Regions from separate parts of the Homo sapiens genome. Here region 1 is linked to region 2. The links come from fine-mapping of genetic effects on plasma protein levels. Region 2 holds a variant in brackets. A gene starts in the other region. All regions are shown on their reverse strands. Region 1 holds the start of TIE1 (tyrosine kinase with immunoglobulin like and EGF like domains 1). Region 2 overlaps NPRL3 (NPR3 like, GATOR1 complex subunit).

The links. A credible set is the group of variants that fine-mapping cannot tell apart. PIP is the chance, under the fine-mapping model, that this variant and not a neighbour inherited with it causes the effect. Protein levels are from antibody-based Olink assays in UK Biobank. Linkage for the fine-mapping came from a reference panel and not from the study's own genotypes, which makes the PIPs less certain.
Region 1: TIE1 starts here. The variant in region 2 is the best candidate, but not a certain one, in a credible set for the plasma level of the TIE1 protein (UK Biobank, PIP 0.66).

The regions. Positions count from the first base shown.
Region 1 is chr1:43,297,918-43,303,293 of GRCh38, reverse strand. TIE1 (tyrosine kinase with immunoglobulin like and EGF like domains 1) reads right to left here and starts at 2,312. Exons shown (of 23, transcript NM_005424.5): 1 at 2,165-2,312. The coding sequence starts at 2,222. RefSeq lists an enhancer at 2,253-2,342 and a silencer at 2,373-2,472.
Region 2 is chr16:93,522-98,860 of GRCh38, reverse strand. NPRL3 (NPR3 like, GATOR1 complex subunit) reads left to right here. Exons shown (of 14, transcript NM_001077350.3): 9 at 560-716. Among named protein-coding and RNA genes, the nearest start is that of MPG, 18 kb to the right of the region's middle. The variant T/C (reference allele first, on the strand shown) is at 4,431.

The DNA.
Region 1 (5,376 bases), not on the chromosome of region 2:
TAACTCGGGAACGGTCTTTCAGCTTGGACCTGCATTTCCATCAGCTTTTCCCAAATCTGCTCCTCTCCAGTGCTCCCTGACTCACTGGACAGCACCCGCCACTTGAGACACAAACTATGGAGTCATCTCTACTCCCATTGTCATAATAATGAATGTTTATTGGCTGCCAGTTATGCACCAGGCACTTTACTGATATTGTTTCATTTTACCATCCCAGCTATCCTGGGAGGTGGATGTTATTATCCCTGTTTTATAGCCAGGAAAGGGAGGCTCAGAGAAGTTAAGTAACTTGCCCAAGGTCATACAATTAGTGAGTGGCAGGGCCAGGTTGTCTGATTCTAAAGTCCACATCTCTGAGCACTGTGCTGCCTGCCTCATCAGTCATAGAATTCTGCACATTGTTTCCTGAACGCTTCTTGACTTCATCCCCACCCCCCCAGCCTGCCTTTGTTCAGCCCTCATCCTTACTCACCTAGACCATCCCAACAGCCACAGCCCCTCCTTCTGCAACTCATCCTCCACGGTGATCTAAGACCAAACCTGACCTTGTGACTTTCTTGCCTGTGACCTCCCATGGCTCCCTATTGCCCTCAGGATAATGTTCGTGCTCCTAAGCCCCGTGATGCTCCCACGCTATCCCTCCTGTTGTGTTCCTAACAGGCACCTTCTCTCCCATGCACCTCCATGCCTCTGAGACTTGCATTTTTTATGTTCTGGCTGCCTGGAATGAAGACCACCCCTCTTAGTGAAATCTTCCTTGATTCCCTTTTTGTCTCCTACCTGAGGCAGTGTAAGCTGAACTCCTCCTCAGTGCTCCTCTAGAGCTCCTGTGTCTGTCCCTGTTTAGCCCTCTTCCCCTGTCCTGTGTTCTGCACTAGACCATGAACCACTCAAAGGCAGCCTCTGTGTTCTAATCGGCTGACCAGCAGACTGAAGGAATCAGCTGCCACCTACTCAGAAATCCTTACCAAGCACAGTGCACTGTGCCAACTGCTCTGCATCATTTTCTCATTTAAACCCCATAACAACCATAGGAGGCTGGCATCATTTAATCTCATTGTACAGACTAGGTGTTGCCAGCCTCTCAACTAATGGCCCAGCACTTAGCACAACTCCTGGAATATTGTTGGTGCTCAATAAATGTTTGTCCAGTGAACAACTGAGTGAATCCAACACAATTACCCTATGAACACCCCCTGAAAATGGCCCTCCACAGATCCTCAGATCCAACACAGTCAGCGGCTACTCCTCACTCCTCCCCTGATCCCAGGTTGCAGTGATTTCTAGCACTTGCCTGTGTTTTCCTGGCCTTGATCTCACTTTCTAGTGGATCAAAGTGATGGCAGTGATGATAGGGCTTGTTTTCCAAAATTTTTTGTTGTGGTGAAATGCATATAAAATAAATTTTACCATCTTTTTTTCTTTTTAGATGAGTCTTGCTCTGTCGCCCAGGCTGGAGTGCAGTGGCGCGATCTCAGCTCACTGCAACCTCTGCCTCCCAGATTCAAGCGATTCTCTTGCCTCAGCCTCCCAAGTAGCTGGGATTACAGGCTCCTGCCACCACGCCCGGCTAATTTTTGTATTTTTAGTAGAGATGGGGTTTCACCATGTTTGCCAGGCTGGTCTCGATCTCCTGACCCTGTGATCCACCCGCTCGGCCTCCCAAAGTGCCGGGATTACAGGCGTGAGCCACCACACCCGGCAAATTTTGCCATCTTAACCATTTGTAAGCAGCATATAACCCAATGTGATTAAATACATTCCTAGTGTTGTCCCACCATCACCACCATCCATCCTTTTTTTTTTTTTTTGAAAAAGACGAAAGTCTAAACACAATGGAGACGGGGTCTCACTATGTTGACCAGTCTGGTCTTGAACTCCTGGCCTCAATTGATCCTCCCATCTCAGCCATCCAAAGTGCTGGGATTACAGGTATGAACCACCGCACCCGGCCCCATGTTTATAACTCTTTTAATCTTGTAAAACCAAGTAAAAATCTTGTAAAAACGCTGTACCTTTTAAACAAAACTCCCCATTTCTTCCTCCCTGCAGCCCATGGCAACCATCATCCTACTTTCTGTCTCTATGATAAAATAGGGTTTCTTGGGTAGAAATCAGGGCCTCGGGGCCTAGAAATGGGGTGAGGGACTCAGGGGAGACTTACCCACATGAGAAGCCAAGAAGAGGATGGGGAGCAAGAAAGGGGGCACCCGCCAGACCATACTCCAGAGGCCGACCCAGGCCAGCCAGGACGAGCTGGGCCTGGGGTCAGATGCTGTGGGCCTGACTGCTCAGCCTGTGTTGGTCAGTGTGGGTCGGTGCTGGGGAGGAAGAGGAAATGAGGTGGCTTGGGTGGGAGGGGTGGCAGGGTAGGGGGTGGGAGGACTCATTCTGCCTTTGAGCCTCTAGGCCCCCCAATCTGGCCCCCACAAGGCTGGGGATGGGTGTGGCCTGGGAGGAGTCACTTGAGGTGGGGGGAAGGTTATGGTAAGGGCAGACCTGGGGACAGCTGGACTGATTTTTCCCATCCCCTGTCTCTCTCCAGTACTCAGTCTTGCTGGCACAAAGGAGGCAGGAGGCAGGAAAGGGAGGAAGCCAGTGGCTTCCGCCTATTGAGGAGGGGGGTGGGGTGGGGGACATTGTTCTGGGGTCTCCCCTCCCCCCGGCACAAACACACAATACGGCCCACATGAGTCCTCATGTATGTGCCCCAGGACACAGACAGTTACATGGGTTTCCTAGAGAGCAGTTCACATACGAAACACAAAGGACCTCTGTGGGCCTGAGAAGCACATACACTCAAAGGAACACAGGGCCCTGGCAACAAAGAGCCTTCGAGTCTACCTTGTGTACCTCTCTCATTGTACAGATGGGAAAACTGAGGCTTGCTGTGCTCGAGGGCACCCTGAGGCTGTGGCAAGGCTGGGACTTGAACTTCTGACTTAGTCCTTGCTTTCTTGGTGCCAATCGCTCCACAAGGGCTCACATTAAGCAGTCCCGGGGAGCACACAGGGAGTATCGGTTGCATAGATAGTCCTCAGCTTAAGCTGCTAATGAAAGCTTCAGCTTATTGTCTGCCAGGTGTCATTCATTTTGCGGCAAACCCCTGCCTATTCCTGGGCACTGGGGCAGCAGAAGTCTGCCCAGGGAGGTGCACTCACTCTTGACGGCTGACAACAACCTGGGAGCAGTCGCACTGCTTTGGCAAAGTCTCTAAAGCCCCATGGATCTTGCCTCTGCTTCCCTCCCAGACTCACCTCTCCCTGCCCTGGCACCCGTTGCTCCACCTCTTGCCACCACTGGCAGTTCCCAGAACGGAACAAGACCTGTAGGTACAGAACGCCCACGAGGAGGCCCTTCCAGGGAGCAGAGGGAGCAACCGTTGGATGGGCAGCCTTGCTGGTTAAATCGATGACCCCTCTGACCCGGAATGGAATGGTTGGGATGGATGAGACTTGGTGTCAGTTTAGGTGACTTAGGTCTGGTAGTACAAACCCTCCCCCTGGGCCTGGGACATCTTCCCAGAGTGTGTTCTGGGTGAAGGCTTCATTCTCCTCTGAATGCACCGGGCTCACATTCACTTTTCTCAGGAGGCTGGGTCCCTGCAGCTTGGTTGAGCTGGTTTAGGCCCAGGGCTCTTCTGAAGCGCCCTGAAAAGTCCCAGGAGACGCTTTGACTCCTGGAGTAGCATAGAAAAGGATCGGGAAAGACCTCCCTACTGATGTGTGACCCACAGAGATTCCCATTCCTGGGCCTGAGGCTGGGAGGAGCTTTCTCTAGACAAGGCTTTGGGTGGGATGGGAGTAGGAGCAGGGGGAGAGTGGTGGATGCCTTACACTTCAGCTCATCCTGGTGCCAGACCTTTGAATCTGGAATGAAAAAGGAGCTGGAAAGTGCTGGGACTGTTTGTATGGCAGGATTCACTTTTGTGGAACTTTTCCTTTGGTTCTTGGAAGACCTGGGGGGCCTGATGTCATTTTGCAAATGTGTGGAGAGCACTTAGGCAGCATTCATTCTTGTTGGAAGTGACACAGATATTGGCACAGGTATTTGCTTTGAATGGAAAAGTTTGAGACTGCAGGATGCTGGCACATGCAAAGATTCTGAGCCCATCTGCCCTCCCCACTCTCAACTGGGAAACAAAAACTGGTAATAATGATCTGTACATAAATAAAATGTTAATGGAGTTTGTACACAAGAATTTGTATTATAAAACAATATCCTACAAGTGTAAAAGTATTTTTACATGTGTTGAGATTATGCTGCAAGTAATTTAAATAGCATCAGTTTACAAACAATATGTCCCAAATGAAATATTACTGCACACACAAATTTTGAGTGGGTTGTGTATACATCTGCTGTTGCAGATGTATAAGACGACTTAAGCCATAATGCACATCTTGAAGTCTCAGTCACTCGAAAGTTATAGGCCAAAAATAATGCAAATATGAAGTTCTACACATTGGAGGGTTAACCTCCAAACCCAAAACAAACTGAATTGATAATGATAGAGTTAAACTCAAGGCGCCAGGTCAACTCAAGGTAATTTATTTTTTAACAGCCAAGCTCAGTGGCTCACACCCGTAATCCCAGCACTTTGGGAGGCCGAGGCGGGCATATCACTTGAGGCCAGGAGTTCGAGACCAGCCTGACCAATGTGGTGAAACCCCGTCTCTACCAAAAATACAAAAATTAGCCGGGCGTGGTGGCACGTGCCTGTAATCCCAGCTACTCAGAAGGCTGAGGTAAGAGAATCGCCTGAACCCGGGAGGTGGAAGTTGCAGTGGAGCCGAGATCGCGCCACTGCACTCCAGCCTGGGTGACAGAGCTAGACTCCCTCTCAAAAATAAAAATAAAAATAAAAAAACTCTTCCTCACTACCATACTCACTATCAGTTTGGCAGAAGTCTGGGAGTTTTATAACACACTGTCTTGGCAAGGTTGTGGGGAAATAGGCATGCTCTATATAGGCATGTTGATGTAATTCTGATGGAGGGCAACTTGGGAATATCTGTCAAATTCATGAACACACGTATCCTTGACTCACAATTGCATTCTTGGGAATTTATCCTGCAGATATACTCCCACAGTACAAAATGTCATGGTTATTCATTGTAGCATTATATGTAATGGCAGAAGATTAGGACCAATTCCTGTGTCAATCAATGGGGAAATGGTTAAATAAATTTTGATGTAGCTATACAGTAAAATATAACAGCTGTGAAATTAGTTGAAGAAACTCTCCAAGTCTATATACTGGTTTTTAAAAGCTCTCTAAGACATACTAATTAGTAAGTGATAAAAAGAAGGTACAGAAGTGTATATTGTATGTTAGCGTTTGCCTAAAAAAGAAAAAAATAGGAATATATATTCATA
Region 2 (5,339 bases):
GCTCAAGTGATTCTCCTGCCTCAGCCTGCCGAGTAGCTGGGACCCCAGGTGGGTGCAACCACACCCGGATAATTTTTTTATTTTTAGTAGAGATGGGGTTTCACCATGTTGGCCAGGCTGGCCTCGAACTCCTGACCTCACGTGACCTGCCTGCCTTGGCCTCCCAGAGTGCCGGGATTATAGGCATGAGCCAGTCCTTGGCAGATTTTGTGAAGGCCTCCAAACAGACCACTGCCCTTTTCTCAAATCCCGCTCTTGGCCCTTCTCTCCGCAGTTAAGGGCCAGGAGGCTCCAGCTGCCTGTTTGTGTCCCAGGTGCATACCTGATGCACACCCGGTGCAGGACCTCGTGCAGGACCTGGTGCATACCTGGTGCAGGGTTCCCTGCACTTCGTATGTTCCGTGTGTTTGAGTCCCAGGTGCATACCTGGTGCATACCCGGTGCATACCTGGTGCAGGACCTGGTGCATACCCGGTGCATACCTGGTGCAGGACCTGGTGCATACCCGGTGCAGGGTTCCTGCACTTCGTGTGTTCCGTGACAGGTGATTGTTTTGCAGCCCCTACCATGCCCTGCTGCTGCTCAGTGATGAGAAGTCCTTGCTGGGTGAGCTTCCTATTGACTGCTCCCCTGCCCTAGTGCGGGTGATCAAGACCACATCTGCTGTGAAGAACCTGCAGCAGCTAGCCCAAGATGCGGACCTGGCCTTGCTGCAGGTATAGCTCTGGAGGCCCAGATGGGTGGCATGTGGCGGTGCTGGGGCATCAGGAAAGGCAGGCCGCCTGCCACAGTACATCCACAGGGGCTGTGTCCAGCTGAGAGCCGCGGCACAGCCCACCATGGGGTGGGGCCAGTCCCTGGGATGGCTGGAGGTTTTGGCATCTGAGTCAGACCTGGGTTCAGGGCTGGCTTTGTGAGTGAGCCACGGGACTGACTTGTTCTTCTGTCTCAGAGAGGTAAGGCGAGTCTGTGAGAGAAAGGACTGGGGTGCTTGCAGTCCTGGAGGTTGAGGCACCAGAGCTAGGGGGTGGGCAGGGCAGCAGCGGGCAGGGCCATGGGGGTCTCACAGTGGTGCATGAACAACATACGGGAACTAAGGGCAGGAAGCTTGGATGCGGGGCCCTCCCATGTGCAGAACAGAGACCTAACCTGGTGGCCTTACGCCCCTGTGTGTGCACATGTGTTGGCCTGTGCACTCTGTACAAGATGCCACGTCCTTGCTGAGCCACATGCTTATGGGCCTGTCCATGCAGAGGGCTGCCCTTTCTGATTAGATGGAGGGCCCCTCAGCCTCGTCTGCGGATCTGGTTGGAGTGTGGGAGGAAAAGCGCAGGCAAGGCTGGGCACGGTGGCTCATGCCTGTCATCCTAGCCCAGGACTTTGAGACCAGCCTGAGCAACATGGCAAAACCCCGTCTCTACAAAAAATACAAAAAAAAAAAAAAAAAAAATAGCTGGGTGTGGTGGCGTGCACCTGTAGTCCCAGCTACTTGGGGGTATGAGGTGTGAGGATCAATTGAGCCTGGGAGGCAGAGGTTGCAGTTAGCTGAGATTGTGCCACTGTACTCCAGCCTGGGCGACTCTGTTTCCAAAAAAAAAAAAAGCACGGGGAGAAATCAGAAGCAGGGGCTGCTGATGGGGTGGCCAACAGGCCATGGGATCAGCTGTGGCTGCTAGTCATGTGGGCGTGGCCCAGAGCCACGGGACCATTGAAATACTGCCTGAGGGTGGGAGCAGGTGGTGCCTGTGGGTGGCGCCCTCGTCTGGTGGCGGTGTGCACAGCATGGCCACCAGGGGGCAGCAGAGGCTGCCGAGGAACACAGGCGTGAGGTGGGCCCGCCTGGGTCCCTCTGGCTGAGCTTCCATGCTCTTTTGGCCTGTGAAACAGGTCTCTGCTTAGCACGTTAGGGGAACTTGTCCAACAAGGCCTGACTCTCAGGCCACTTTTCCCCGAAAGCAGCCTTTTTGGATTCTGTCTTTGAGAGTAAGTCTCCCGCCTCTGTATCTCAGGACCCTTTATCTATCCTCTGTGAGAGCACTTACCAAATTGTGCCCTTGTATTTCTTTTTTCTTTTCTGAGACAGGTTCTTGCTCTGTCTCCCAGGCTGGCATGTGGTGGTGCCATCATGATCCACCCAGGCTCAAGCATCCTCCCAAGTAGCTGGGACTACAGGTGTGCGCCTGGCTAATATTTTTTTTTTTTTTTTTTTTTTGGTAGAGACGGGGTTTCCCTATGTTGCCCTGGCTGGCCTCATACTCCTGGGCTCAAGTGATCATCGCACCTTGGCCTCCTAAAGGGCTGGTATTACAGGCATGAGCCACCATGCCCAGCTGTGCCTTTGGACTTCATGGGCTGGACAGGACTCAGTAAACACCATGTCCTGCCCACCTTCATAGCATTCAGGAGACAGAGAATTTTAAAAGAACTCACCACTCCATACAACCCTGCAGAGTGAGGGAGGCAGTGACCCTCCGTGTCCTGATGAGCACCGACCACATGGTAAATGCCTGTGGCTGTTCACTGGTCCTGTGTTGAGCTTTTGAAAGGAGCTGGGCCTGGCTTTCCTGAGGCTGTCTGGCAGGAGTTTGTGCTGGACACTGTGCCTCTCATCCTTGCTGTCAGAGTCTCCTTGGACAAAGCTTTGATGCCCTCTTCTGAGGTTGTCTGGCAGGAGTTTGTGTGGACAGTGTGCCTCTCACCCTTGCTCTCAGAGTCTCCTTGGACAAAGCTTTGGTCTCCTTTTGATGTCCCCTTCACTTCCCTGCCGTGGCCTTGACTGGGGAGAGGGAAGGCTGTTTGTCATTGTTTTCTTCTGTCTGTACCCCTTCCCTGCTGTCCCTGCTGCAGGTCAGCAGGGCGTTGCTGCTGGTGTGGCGGTGCGGAAGCCCCTGGGGCCCAGCCCTGGTGGGTCACTCTGTTTCCGGAGATAGCCCCCTGGGGAGCACCTGCCTCAGGTGTGAATGTCACCAGATAGTTTAAAGTCCCTCATGTGGCTGGGTGCAGTGGCTCATGCCTGTAATCCCAGCACTTTGGGAGGATGAGGCAGGAGGATTGCCTAAGCCCAGGAGGTCACGACCAGCCTAGGCAACATAGGAAGACCCTGTCTTTACAGAAAATTAAATAATTAGCTGGGCATGGTGGTGTGTGCCCATGGTCCCAGCTACTCAGGAGGCTGAGGTGGGAGGATCACTTGAGCCCTGGTGTTCGAGGCTGCAGTGAATTGTGATTTTACACACTGCAGTCTGGGCAACAGAGCAAGACCCAGTCTCAAAAAATAAAATAAAATAAAATTCTTCATGTTTATATCAATCCAGAGAGAATCTACAAGTAAATTTTGGGTGTGTCATGATAAAATTAGTATGTTACAAGACTTCAAACACTACACAAATTATAGACACAGAAAGTTCCCACAGTCCCATATCCCACAGGTAACCTAGATCCCTCCAGGTTTTTTATCTGTATATATACATTTTATTGTGTGTGTGTGTGTGTGTGTGTGTGTGTGTGTGTATATATATATATATATATATATATACACACACAAACATTTTATTTTGTATTATGAAAATTAGGATCGTGCTGTATATTCGTTGTGATTGGCTGAATAATGGCCCCCACAGATATACACATCCTAATCCCCAAAATCTATGAATGTGAACTCATGTGGGACTTTGGAGATGTTACTAAGTAGAAGATCTTGAGATGGGAAGATCATCCTGTTGAGCTCTAAATGTAATCTCTAAGGCCCTTATCAGAGGGAGGCAGAGGAAGATCTGATAAAAAGAGGCAGCGATGTGGCCACAGAGACAGAGTGGAGTGACGTGACCGCAAGCCAAGAGACACTGGCCGTTGAAGAGGCAGGACGAATTCTCTTCTGGAGCTTCCAGAGGGAGCCTGGTCCTGCTGGCACCTTATGCTTGCCCTTAAGTACTGATTTTGGATTTTCAATTTCCAGAATGGACAGCATCTTGGAGAGGCTGCTGCAGGGAGAGGCAGGAGGTGGAGACCACTATGCTGAGCAGAGCTGGGGGAAAGTGGGGGTGTCTTTTTGAGAGAGACATGCGAGTGGCACGTGGGGTGAGGGAACAGGGCGGTGATGGAGCTGAAACCTGCCATGTCGGGGTTGGCGGAGCCATTGGGGGCACTACTCGCACAATCTTGGCTCACTGCAACCCCCACCTCCCAGGTGCAAGCAATCCTCCTGTCTCAGCCTCCAAGTAGCTGGGACTACAGGCATGTGCCGCAGTGCCTGGCTAATTAAATAAAAATTTTTGGCAGAGATGAGGGTCTCACTATATTGCCCAGGTTGGTCTCGAACTCCGAGGTTCAGGCGATCCTCCTGCCTTGCCCTCCCAAAATGCTGGGACTACAGGCATGAGCCACTCACTCAGTCTGGAGGCCCTGTTTTCTGAGCTGAGGTATAAGTGTCC[T/C]CAGCAGCAGGGCAGCACGGTGTCCAGGCAGGGGTGACTCACCTCCACAGAGGCCTACCCGCCAAGAGGGTGGAGTGGTGTCCTGGGCTGATGCAGAGGCAGAAGTGCGAGAGCTTAGGATTTCACACACCTTTTCGTGAAGTGCTGGGGTGCTGTGCTCTCAGACCTCAGGCCTGAGCTTTCCTCTGGAAGGGGTTTGGGTTGTGTTTGTGTTTCCTGATGTTCAAGGGTCCACAAGAGCAAAGCTGGGAGGGGGGTCTCTGTGGGAGTCGGGGCACATGGGGCAGACCTGGGGCCTTTGGGTATGTAGGGGTGGCATGCTGAGTGACTCCACACCCATCATCGGGCAAGGCCATGCTGGAGTTTTAGGGGGTATAAGAGGGCTGTGCCCCTGCCAGGACATCCAGCTAAGCCCCCTGCCCAGCTGGGCCAGCACTGTGTTCCCAGCACCCCAGACATTCCCATGCTTGTGGCCTGAGACCACCATTCTTCAGTGGGAGTCAAGACAGCATAGGATGGGAAAACAGTGCCACCAAACAGCACAGGGAGCAGTGACAAAAAGGCCATTGTGGCCGGGTGCGGTGGCTCATGCCTGTAATCCCAGCACTTTGGAAGGCCAAGGTGGGTGGATCACGAGGTCAGATCGAGACCATCCTGGCCAACATGGTGAAACCCTGTCTCTACTAAAAATACAAAAATTAGCTGGGCGTGGTGGCATGTGCCTGTAATCCCAGCTACTCAGGAGGCTGAGGCAGGAGAATCGCTTGAACCTGGGAGGCAAGAGGTTGCAGTGAGCTGAGATTGTGCCACTGCACTCCAGCCTGGGCGACAGAGCAAGACTGTCTCCAAAAAAAAAAAAAAAAAAACCATTGCTCACAGAAAGTGCTGTGTGCTGGCTGTGCCCCACAT